Linked DNA regions of Homo sapiens: region 1 is linked to region 2. The links come from fine-mapping of genetic effects on gene expression. Tissue or cell type: whole blood. Region 2 holds a variant in brackets; the other region holds the start of a gene. All regions are shown on one strand. Distances are between the middles of the regions.

Region 1 (5,000 bases), 100 kb after region 2:
CACAGGTACCCAAGAGCCAGGTAATGAGCAGTTAAGGTAAGAACATTAAGAAATAGTAGTTGTTTATAGCATGGATTAAGGCAATGCTGTTGTAAACTTTTTTTCCCCCAAAGCTGATTTATCAATCAATTGCCACGAGTTTGCTGCACAAAACTGCAGCCATTATCATGGTTGGCTCTGCAGCCACAACAAAATTACTGAAAGCCTTTTACCAGGAAAGGTTGTCAGGAGGGAGAAGAGTGGTCCTGTATAATAATAAATAACAGGATGAAATGTTAAGTGGTTTGAGGATTCAAGGAATGAAGGAGAAATAATCAAAGAAAAGTAAGCAGGGAAAAACACTAATTTGGTTATGAATTATAGAAAATATTTACAATGATCAATCATGTTTGCACAGTGGTTTGTTTGCTCATTATATTCTCCATTCATTGGCCAGCATGGTAATAAGTATCTCAACCTCTCTTGCCAGAGACCAGAGCTCTGTCCCCTAATGTGGAGGTGACTTCTTCATAAGAGGACATGGGGTAGAGTGTCAAGTATTCAAAACTCTGGAACTAGATTGGCATTCGGGTGGATCTCGACCCTGCCACTTAGTAAGTGTAACTTAACTTCTCTGGGACCTCTTCACCTTACCTGTGAAAGGAGTTGAATAAGAACTCCCATTTCACTGGATTCTTGTGAGCCTTAGCTGAATAAAGTTAGAAAAGCGGGGGCCGAGCGCGGTGGCTCATGCCTGTAATCCCAGCACTTTGGGAGCCGGAGGCGGGCAGATCACGAGGTCAGGAGATCGAGACCATCCTGGCTAACATGGTGAAACCCCGTCTCTATTAAAAATACAAAAAATTAGCTGGGCGTGGTGGCAGGTGCCTGTAGTCCCAGCTACTCGGGAGGCTGAGGCAGGAGAATGGCGTGAACCCGGGAAGCGGAGTTTGCAGTGAGCTGAGATCGTGCCACTGCACTCCAGCCTGGGTGACAGTGCGAGACCCCGTCTCAAAAAAAAAAAAAAAAAAAGAAGCTCTGGGACCTGTTAAATGCTGTGTGTTTGGTAAATAAAAAACTTCCGACTTTGGCGCTGTTCTAGGCACTGAGGATTTTAGAATTTTCAAAAAGCTTTTGCATATTTTATCTCGCTTGACCCGAAAAATCCTGAGGTAGAGCAAATAATATTTTTTTCTACCTTTAGTATGTAAGGAAATTAAGGCCCAGAAAAGTAGTGAGTAATATGACCCAAATTCACAGTGGAGAGACCAAGACTGCAACTTAGTTTTCTCAAGTGTTTACCTCTGGGCTACCCACCATCAAGGCTAAGAATTCTCAACAGCTCTGGTCTTCTGGAGGCCTTTCCTTGTCAAATCTCATTCCTGTTTTCTACCCCTCCCCCCAAACCCCCGTACTATCTAGCAGAGAAGAATCTTCACTTCTCAGTTGAGGAACGCCCTTTCCCTTTACAGGCTTTTGGCCAAAATGAGCAAAGTTCTCTTCTCAGGATGAGGTGGCCAGCCTTTCTGCATCAATATTGTGAAACACATGAATAATCTGGGCACGCATCCCCAGGGCCATGACTCTGCAATTTTGTACCTTCTAAAACTAACAAACACTACACATGAGATAAAGAAAAAAGATAATTCGGTGGCCATGTTGCGGATACGTTAATCTGGAACTCTAGATGAATTCTAGCATTTCCTGAAGGCATCGTGGTGGCTGCAGACTCAGCCCACTATGTGGTCTCATGCAAAGTGGGGTTCAGAGCCCAGAGGCTGCAGGTGAAATGCTGGTGCCTCTCGGGAGAGTGGTGGGGTAAGGCCTTTCTCTGTGCTGACCTGACCTCCTTTTCCAATCTCAGGGATTCATAGACACCACTCTAAAACAAAGCGGTAGAAAAATTTTACTCGTCTGCCAGAGAGGGTAATATCCAAATTTGGACTGATTTGCCTTTTTTTTTTTTTTTTTTTTAATTACCAAAGATAATCGCACACATAGCCCTCTTATTTTGGAAACAGCAGAGGACAACAAAGTCCAGTACTATCCTAAGGCCAAGAAAAGCATATGCAAAAGGTAGGTGTAGGCTGGGACTCACAGCAGGCTGGGACCCCAGGAAAACTGGGCTTTAAGGATTGCTCACTGGAGGCCTGGGTGCTATACAGCAATGCTTGCGGGCACCCACTCAGCACTCACTGGGTAAGAAATTAGGGAGAAGAAATAGGGGAATATAAACGTGGAGCTCAGACTGCCACATTTCAAGAGAAGCAGAGAGACTAGAAGATTTACATGCACTCCTCTCTCCTCTGTCCCAAGCCAGCTAGAGCAATATATGACACCTTAATTCCCGAAAAAGAGAGTTCCCTTCTCCTTTTCTCCTTCCACATGGCTTCCTCCTCCAGACTGGGGAAGTGGGGCACAGGTGAGAACCGTCCCAAGGGGCTCACCCTTAGCTCTCTTGTCACTGGCTATAATATCACACAAAAATATTATCATCTAACCCACATCCTCTTGTTTCGATAGCTAGCATTATTAGCAGTAGTATTATTTAGTATTATTTTAAAACTTGCTGATGTTTCTCCTATCAAAGTGAACTCAGAAGAGCAAATCCTGCCTTACAATAGGCATAAAGGCCACTATGCCCATGAAACCTGAGACATCGCAGGCTTTTGCACTCTTGGGGAGAACAGCAGTCGTTCAAACTACAGGCATTTCCTCCATTACTACACGTGCCTTTTCCTCCTTCCCCAGAGTTCAAGGGACCCTTTCAAACAGGAGGTTACTTTGACTTGAAAAGGCTAAGTTTGGAAATCATCACTCAAGCATGAAAAGACTCTCTCGTTTCATTCCTGGAGTTTGAGAAATGGGAAAACTTACCCGCACGGGGACAGAAATACAATTCCCTTTCAAAAGCGATCGATTGAAAAGCTAAGTTTAGCTGCTAAGTGGAGCCAAGCACTTCCAGCTGGCAGAGACCCCCCCAAGTCTTCCATCTGCCACCCACCCTGGCCCTCCCTGCCTGCCACCCTTTGCATGCGGTCCCCTTCTCCCCTCCCAGTACGCACGGTGAGGCCGAGGAGGAGGAAGCAGCAAGCCTGTCCCGCCGCCGGGTCGCGCGCAATGCAGGGACTGTGGCCGCGCGGGCCGGACGCAGGCACCGCCCCTCTCCAGTTAATCTCCTGTTAATTAGCCCTCCCACGTTTAAAGCCCGACCCCAACCTCGCCAAACCCCTCCTCTAAATCACCTGATTTACCCGCCCACAGTAACCATCGCCTGCTGATTCCCTTTGAGCCCTTCTATTTGGCGCCCTTAGAAACTCTGGTTCCTGAAATGCCAACTCCCCTAATCAGTGGGAAGGGGGACAGTAGCCATTGTCTAGGAACTCTGAATTCTCGAACATTTCAGGATCAGCAGAGTTTTGGAAGTTGTTTTTAAAAACTTCGCAGAAAGTTAAAATCTCCAGGGTAGAACTAATTAGCAGGCATTGACAATATTACCTTCCCTTAGACTTCACCTCCCCTGCGCTGGTGGCAAGGCCTCCTTAAAAGGCTGACAATGACAGAATGTAACCCTCAGTAAAGATCACTTACGGTGTTCCAAATTCATGATACCAGACAATTTGCTTTGTCACGATGTCCCCTCCTGTTCAGGGTCCAGAATGAAATTGGAGGCAATTGTACTGGATCAGCTCATTACACAATCAGCTTAGTGTGTTTTTTACAGGGAGGTTTAGAGGAACGTTTACGGAAGCCGTAGATATTTAGCCTACCATCACTATCTAGATTAGGGATACTTCCAAGCTTCCTAGTCCCCATAGTCCCCACAATATTTATGGATCTATCTTTCATGGGTTTATATGAGAAATGTTTAAGGATTTCTGTTTTCAATCTATATTATTTCTCTCCTAGTGCTATATCTCAGACACTCACCACCTGTTGCAAGGTCTACTTCCTTTTTTTGCTCTTAATTTACTCCTTTAGGCTTTAAAGGATATCCCTAGGACTAACTTTCTAGGATGTGATGGACAAGTTCATGTTCTATTAAAGAAAGAAATAACTACCAGTTTGCTCTAGGAACAGAAATTAATCCAAGGAAGGTCTGAGAATGATTTCTATATAAGCATAACAGTAGGAGTTTTGGAAAATCTAGCATCAGAAGGCATCTGTTCTTCACTTTTATGTCTGTATCTTTTCAAAACTCTACTTATTCACCTATCTTTGTAAAGTATACTAGAATCTGTCTGTAACATTAACTGGAATAGGATAGAATTTGAGATGACATAAATCTATTCTGAATTCTCTCCAAAGGAGTTTGGTATTATAAGAATTTAAGACTCTCTTCATTTATTATAAGGTGATACAGGCCAAATCTTATGGATAACATGGCAGAAAAAGGAAGAGGAGAGCTACTGTTTAGATAATTTGGTCTACAGAATGCTAGTTGAATGGTTCTAACATTTTTTTTTTTTTTTTTTTGAGACGGAGTCTGCCTGTGTAGCCCAGGCTGGAGTGCAGTGGCGCGATCTCAGCTCACTGCAAGCTCCGCCTCCCGAGTTCACACCGTTATCCTGCCTCAGCATCCCAAGTAGCTGGGATCACAGGCACCTGCCATCACGCCTGGCTAATTTTTTGTATTTTTAGTAGAGACGGGGTTTCTCTGTGTTAGCCAGGATGGTCTTGATCTCCTGACCTCGTGATCCACCTGCCTCAGCCTCCCAAAGTGTTGGGATTACAGGCGTGAGCCACTGCGTCCAGCTGGTTCTAACATTTTTTTAAAAAAGAAAGTAGCACTTGACTCATCTAATGCTCTAAATATAGAATGTGTTCAAACTATTAATTGATCAATGAATAAATACTGAGTTCCTACTATCACTAAATCACGAACAATTATTGCCTGTTACATACATATATATATGTGTGTGTGTGTTTGTGTGTATCAGGCAATATTATATATATACATACGGATATATATATGACACTGTATTGGGTAGAATATTAGCAGTTGGTTTAATTGAATAAAC
Region 2 (5,266 bases):
AGGGTACTGGAAAACCAAATTGATTACTTATTGAAATATGTTAACATGGTGTAATGGGTAACTGCCAAAGTCAGATATGCAATAATATTACATGAATCATTGTCACATAACCACAAAGATTTATAAGAGCAATAAGAACTTATAAAACCTTTTCCACCAAAGTTTAGATGCTCTTAAAAAAATATAGATAGTGATCTGTATATCATATAGTTTAAAGACCTTTTTTGTTTTTTACAGGTTTTCTTTTTTAAAAAATTCATATAACTGTTGTCAACTAGAATAATGGGCAGTTTTTCTATAAAATCTTTCAAGAAACTTTTAAGAATGCTAAATGCATTGCCTCTACTCAATTTATTTTAATATTTCAGCTATGGAACAAAGTTTTTTTGAGAATTCCTTTTATTTTGAAATATGTAATGCATAAAAAGTGTATTTTGTATATCTTTGCGTGTGTATAATATTGTATGTGGACAGTTTAAAGGATAGTAAAAATAAACCCCCCTATGCATACCACTGTTTTAGCCTCATGGGACCTAGTTTTTGTCTTTGGAGCTATCTAAGTGAAACAATACCTATTCGGAGATTGCTTTAGTCTTGAATCTATACTGAAAATAAATTGTTTGATTGCTTTAAGATGCAAGTTTCTAGAATGTATCCACCACCTATAGTTAAAAGAAAAATTGTTTCAAAGTCCAATTCAAACAATTTACAATGTAATTTTGAAAACTGAAATGATACTTATACATCTGTTGACTGCTTACAAATTACAGAGCATTTCAGTTATTGTTATTTTCCAGGTTACTTATAATCCTAAAAGAGAAAATTCCTAAACAGTATTTATTAATTTCACAGCATTTAAATAACAGTAAGGAAAAGCTGAAGCAGAAAACCAATTCAAATTCAGATAATTGTACTAACTTTGAGCTGTAGATTTGGTCCTTTATGTCTCAGTTTCCGTGTGTGACACACACACACACACACACACACACACACACACACACGGAATATATATATTTGAAAACCATCCTAACCGCCTCCTACATTCACAAGATATTTGAATATTTTGTCTTCCTGATCAAACAGAGCTCAAGAAAGGGGGAAAAGCCCATTCACTCATGCTGGGAAGAAAGTGACTTCATTAGCACATCATAGGGGTGCCCCTTTGAAAGTGTGTTAAATTGTGTTAACAGTTTGGTTAAGAGGTGGGAGTGTGACTGGTTTAACTTGTCTCATTAATACACTAGTGCGATTCTGAGTTGGATTTTGCAAGCCTGTTACAGTATTTTCTCACTCCTCTCCCTAGAATTCCTTACACTTTCTACCTCTCAGCTTCTGACTGTTATCAAGGCTCTGCTCTTGAGTGATTTCTAGCCCTAGGACTCTTCCTTTGTTTCAGTCATCAAGAACAATTAGTGGCTCATTTTCCCAAGGAACAGCCATTTCATTGTATTTTGTTGTTTCAGCAGCCCTTTGTCTTCCTCTTGAAGGAGAAATGAACCACCATGCTTTCCAGAGAGGCAGGCACTCAGGGAAACATATTGCTTTATGTGATGAGAGATGTAGAAGGAGGCCCAAGTGACTGGACACAGACACCCTAAGGGTTATCCGTGCAACCAATAATTAAGTTCTTAGCAGCTGATTACTTTCTGTTGCTTAGATGCAAAGCAAACAGAAGTGTCATACACAGGATAAAAGCCAAAGAGCTGAGTACATGTAAACCTCTTTTGGAAGATTTATTACATGTCACAGTGTGGCTATAACTTATTCTCATCTGTCCCTCTTGGCACTTACCAACAGTGATGAAAATGGAGAGTCTTTACTCAGGGAACTCTTGACTGCATTACTGTTAAATTATTTGCATATTGGTAGCACAGAGGGATCCTAGGATGGCAGTTTTCCAAGTTTCATTACCCTAACCCTCACCACTCAATAAAAGTTCCCACAATTCCAATGAGGTGGAGAGAAAACTGCAGAGCTATTTGCCTTTTGAGTATTCTCACTGTTAACTAATGAAGAACGAAGGTGAATGGCACTAAATGGGAGAATGGAAGAATGGGGGGATAGATGGATGAGTGGAAGGACTCACTTGTTTATTAATGGAGCTAATTATATGGTTCTTTTGGGGCAAAATTTGAATAAATGAGTAGGATTTTATCACAAAGCCACAGGGCCCCCTATTGGCATCACAATATAGTTGATCTTGCTTATTGCCATTCTGTTTTGATGAACAATGACATGGAGCATTTATTATGTCACAGACAGGCAGATGGCCATGGATTTTTCTTCGTCCAATTGTACACCTTTCACTAACTATGAAACATATCCACCTGGACATGTATTACTGTATACTCACCTTAACAACTGATATGGTTTGAGTGG[G/A]GGTCCTGTCTTAAATGTTGAAGTGTAATGCCCAGTGTTGGAGGTGGGGCCTGGCGGGAAGTGTTTGGGTTTTGGGGCAGATCCTTCATGAATGATTTAGCACCATCCTCTTGGTGATGAGTGGGTTTACTCGAGATCAGATTGCTTAAAAGTGTATGGCACCTCTCTACTCTTGCTCTTGCTCTGCTCTTGCTATGTGATACACTGACCTCCCGTTTACCTTCTGCCATGATTGTAAGTCCCCTGAGACCCTCACGAGAAGCAAATACTGACAACAAGCTTCCTGTACAGCCTGCAGAACTGTGGGCCAATTAAGCCTCTTTTCTTTATAGATTGTCTAGCCTCAGGTATTTCTTAATGGCAATGCAAAAGAATGGCCTAATATAACAACTAAAGTTACATAGAGTTCAACGTAAGACTGCATAGCATCATTATTCTTCCTGTTTCACTAGGATTAAAATTACCAACATTTTTATGGACTATTCTTGTCATTGTTAGCTCAGCTTTTAAACATCTAACCTTCCCCCTCTCTTCTTATAAATGATATCTCTTAAAGTACATATATGCCTTTCAGACCAACTGGGATAATGTTTCCTACTTCACTCTTTCATGTGGAATCTCCCAGCCTCCTCTTTCATTAACACAGTCATGCATTGCATTTGCAGGATAAGGATAGCTTGGGGTGGAGTTGGAGAGAAATAAAGGTCCTCCAAAATCCTCTGCTTCACAAAACCATCCCAATTTAAACAATTGCTATAATTATGTAAATAAGAATAGAGTCAGCCAACATGTGTTTGAAATCATCAATCTGATTATTTTTATTCATCTATAACACAGACTTTAAATTTTAAAAGTGTGTTTATGGAGAAATGTCACCTCCAGACAAGTCTTCTGAATTTGCTTTCAACCATATTTTTGCCCCAAATCTCCATCACTATGAAAATTCTGGAACCATTACTGTTTTTCTTCCACCTTGATATTTTTTGAATTGATAATCTCGTGTGCATCATAGCAGCAAAGTCTTAAGCCTGCCCTTGCTTAGCTGATGACTGAATTAACCCTATCCTCCAGATCTATACTGCTTTATGTTTTAAGTAGTTAGGCTGAAACCCAACACTTTTAGTCTTTCAAAAATTCTTCCTCATTGAACCCTAATTCTTGACTCACCCACAAATCCATACAATCTCTTCTTTGTTAATTATATAAATTATAGGAGAAATTCAGTAAGTATTTGTTAATTTGAAGGACAATAATGTTTAAATAAAATATTTATGTTTCTTCTTTCTGTCTTTTCTTAATTGTCGTACTCATTGTCCTTTCAATATTGCTCTTTTCTCATTTTAAAATTTAAAATGTTTAACATTTTTCTCTCTTTGGCCTTTTTATAAGCTTCATTGGATATCTCGACAACCTGTACAGTGTCTTTCAACTACTACCATACATAGATGACTCCCAATGCCTACTCAGTGTATTCATCAGAACATACAAGATGTCCAGATGCATCTCAAATGCAATGAATTTATTTATTCAGCAATCATTGATTGAGACCTCCAGCTCCAACCCTGATGCAGTTACCAGCTTTGAAATTAAGTTCTTACCATAAGCAACTAGAAAATCTGGAAAAATATATAAAGGAACTCTTTGTAGGCTTTAGACAGCAACTGAGGCCTACAGCCCATGAAAAAGGGGAGGCCCATGGGTGAGCACCATAATCTTCCACCAGGACCTTGAATATCTGAGCTGTGCAAGTGCCAGGAGAGCCTCCAGGATGCCTGGCTGAAAGTGGCTGCTGGGAAAGTGTATAGAATGTTTAACTATGTCAAATCTATTATGCCAAGCTTGGGGCCCTTGCTAGGAATCCCTGGTATCCCGACATATGAGATCAGTCAGATGCACCTATTCACCCAAAGATTTGGGTTCCCCAAAGTTTTCTAAATCCTTAGATCCTGCAGAGATAGTGCATCCTTCCTTTTTCACAGCTACCCTTCTTGCATATGAGAAAACACTGCAGAGTCCTCTCTCCCACAAGGCAACAGGGTCATCTTCAGGATTTTCCCTCATCTCATCTCCTAAATGCCAGGCCCAAACTTTGGGTTAAATTATATCAAAAGCAACTCAAGGTTATACCAGACCTGAGTGGTGAGGAAAGACACTATACCCCCAAAAGAGCTTCAATGATTAGCCAGCATATTTGGATAAATGACTGGTTTTAAGAGTTTTGATCAAGGAGGCAGGACATGAAACTAGATAAAGGAGAGTTTATTGATTTAGAGCCATCCTCTCAGGATATAAGGCCATGGGATTTAACACTTGACAAGGACTGCAGGGAAAGGCATAAATTTTCTGCTATGGCATCTCTTAGAAGTCTGGAGAAAGTGACGGTCCATGCTGAGTAAAGTTGCATTACTTGAGTTGCTATGGCAGACTGTGGAGAAAGGAATAGAGAGGCTTAGGGAAATAGGCATGCTGCAAAGACTATATGATGTGAGGACAGAAGACCCACAGAGGATTATATTGTTCCATGGGAAGGCCTAGAGGAAGTACCATTTAAGAAGGCCATCAGGAGTGTACAAGGGAGAGGGACACCAGAATCAACAAGAAGTTCAGTGGTGGCTCTGTTCCCCAAGCATTTAAGAAGGCCATCAGGAGTGTACAAGGGAGATGGATACCAGAATCAACAAGAAGTTCAGTGGTGGCTCTCTTCCCCAAGCCACCACTTGGGGCTTGACAGGAGGGGATGTCACAGAGTGGATGATAGGAGGGGCTGTCACAGAGATTTTGTTTGCCACAGAACAAATGGAATCAATAAAGGCTAAGTGGCAGCATTTAACCATCAGGGGCCTGGGAGTCTCAATTAACACAGGACTGGTAAGGTTGGAGTGGTAAG

Evidence for each region. PIP is the estimated chance that this variant, and not a neighbour inherited with it, causes the effect.
Region 1: it holds the start of MGST1, and the variant in region 2 is fine-mapped to the expression of MGST1 in whole blood (TOPMed, PIP above 0.99).

What each region holds. Positions count from the first base shown.
Region 1 is chr12:16,345,755-16,350,754 of GRCh38, reverse strand. MGST1 (microsomal glutathione S-transferase 1) reads right to left here and starts at 3,110. Exons shown (of 4, transcript NM_020300.5): 1 at 3,045-3,110. RefSeq lists enhancers at 1,231-2,160, 3,091-4,020.
Region 2 is chr12:16,446,575-16,451,840 of GRCh38, reverse strand. It overlaps a transcript of MGST1 not described here. Among named protein-coding and RNA genes, the nearest start is that of MGST1, 100 kb to the right of the region's middle. RefSeq lists enhancers at 736-1,308, 1,309-1,883. The variant G/A (reference allele first, on the strand shown) is at 2,380.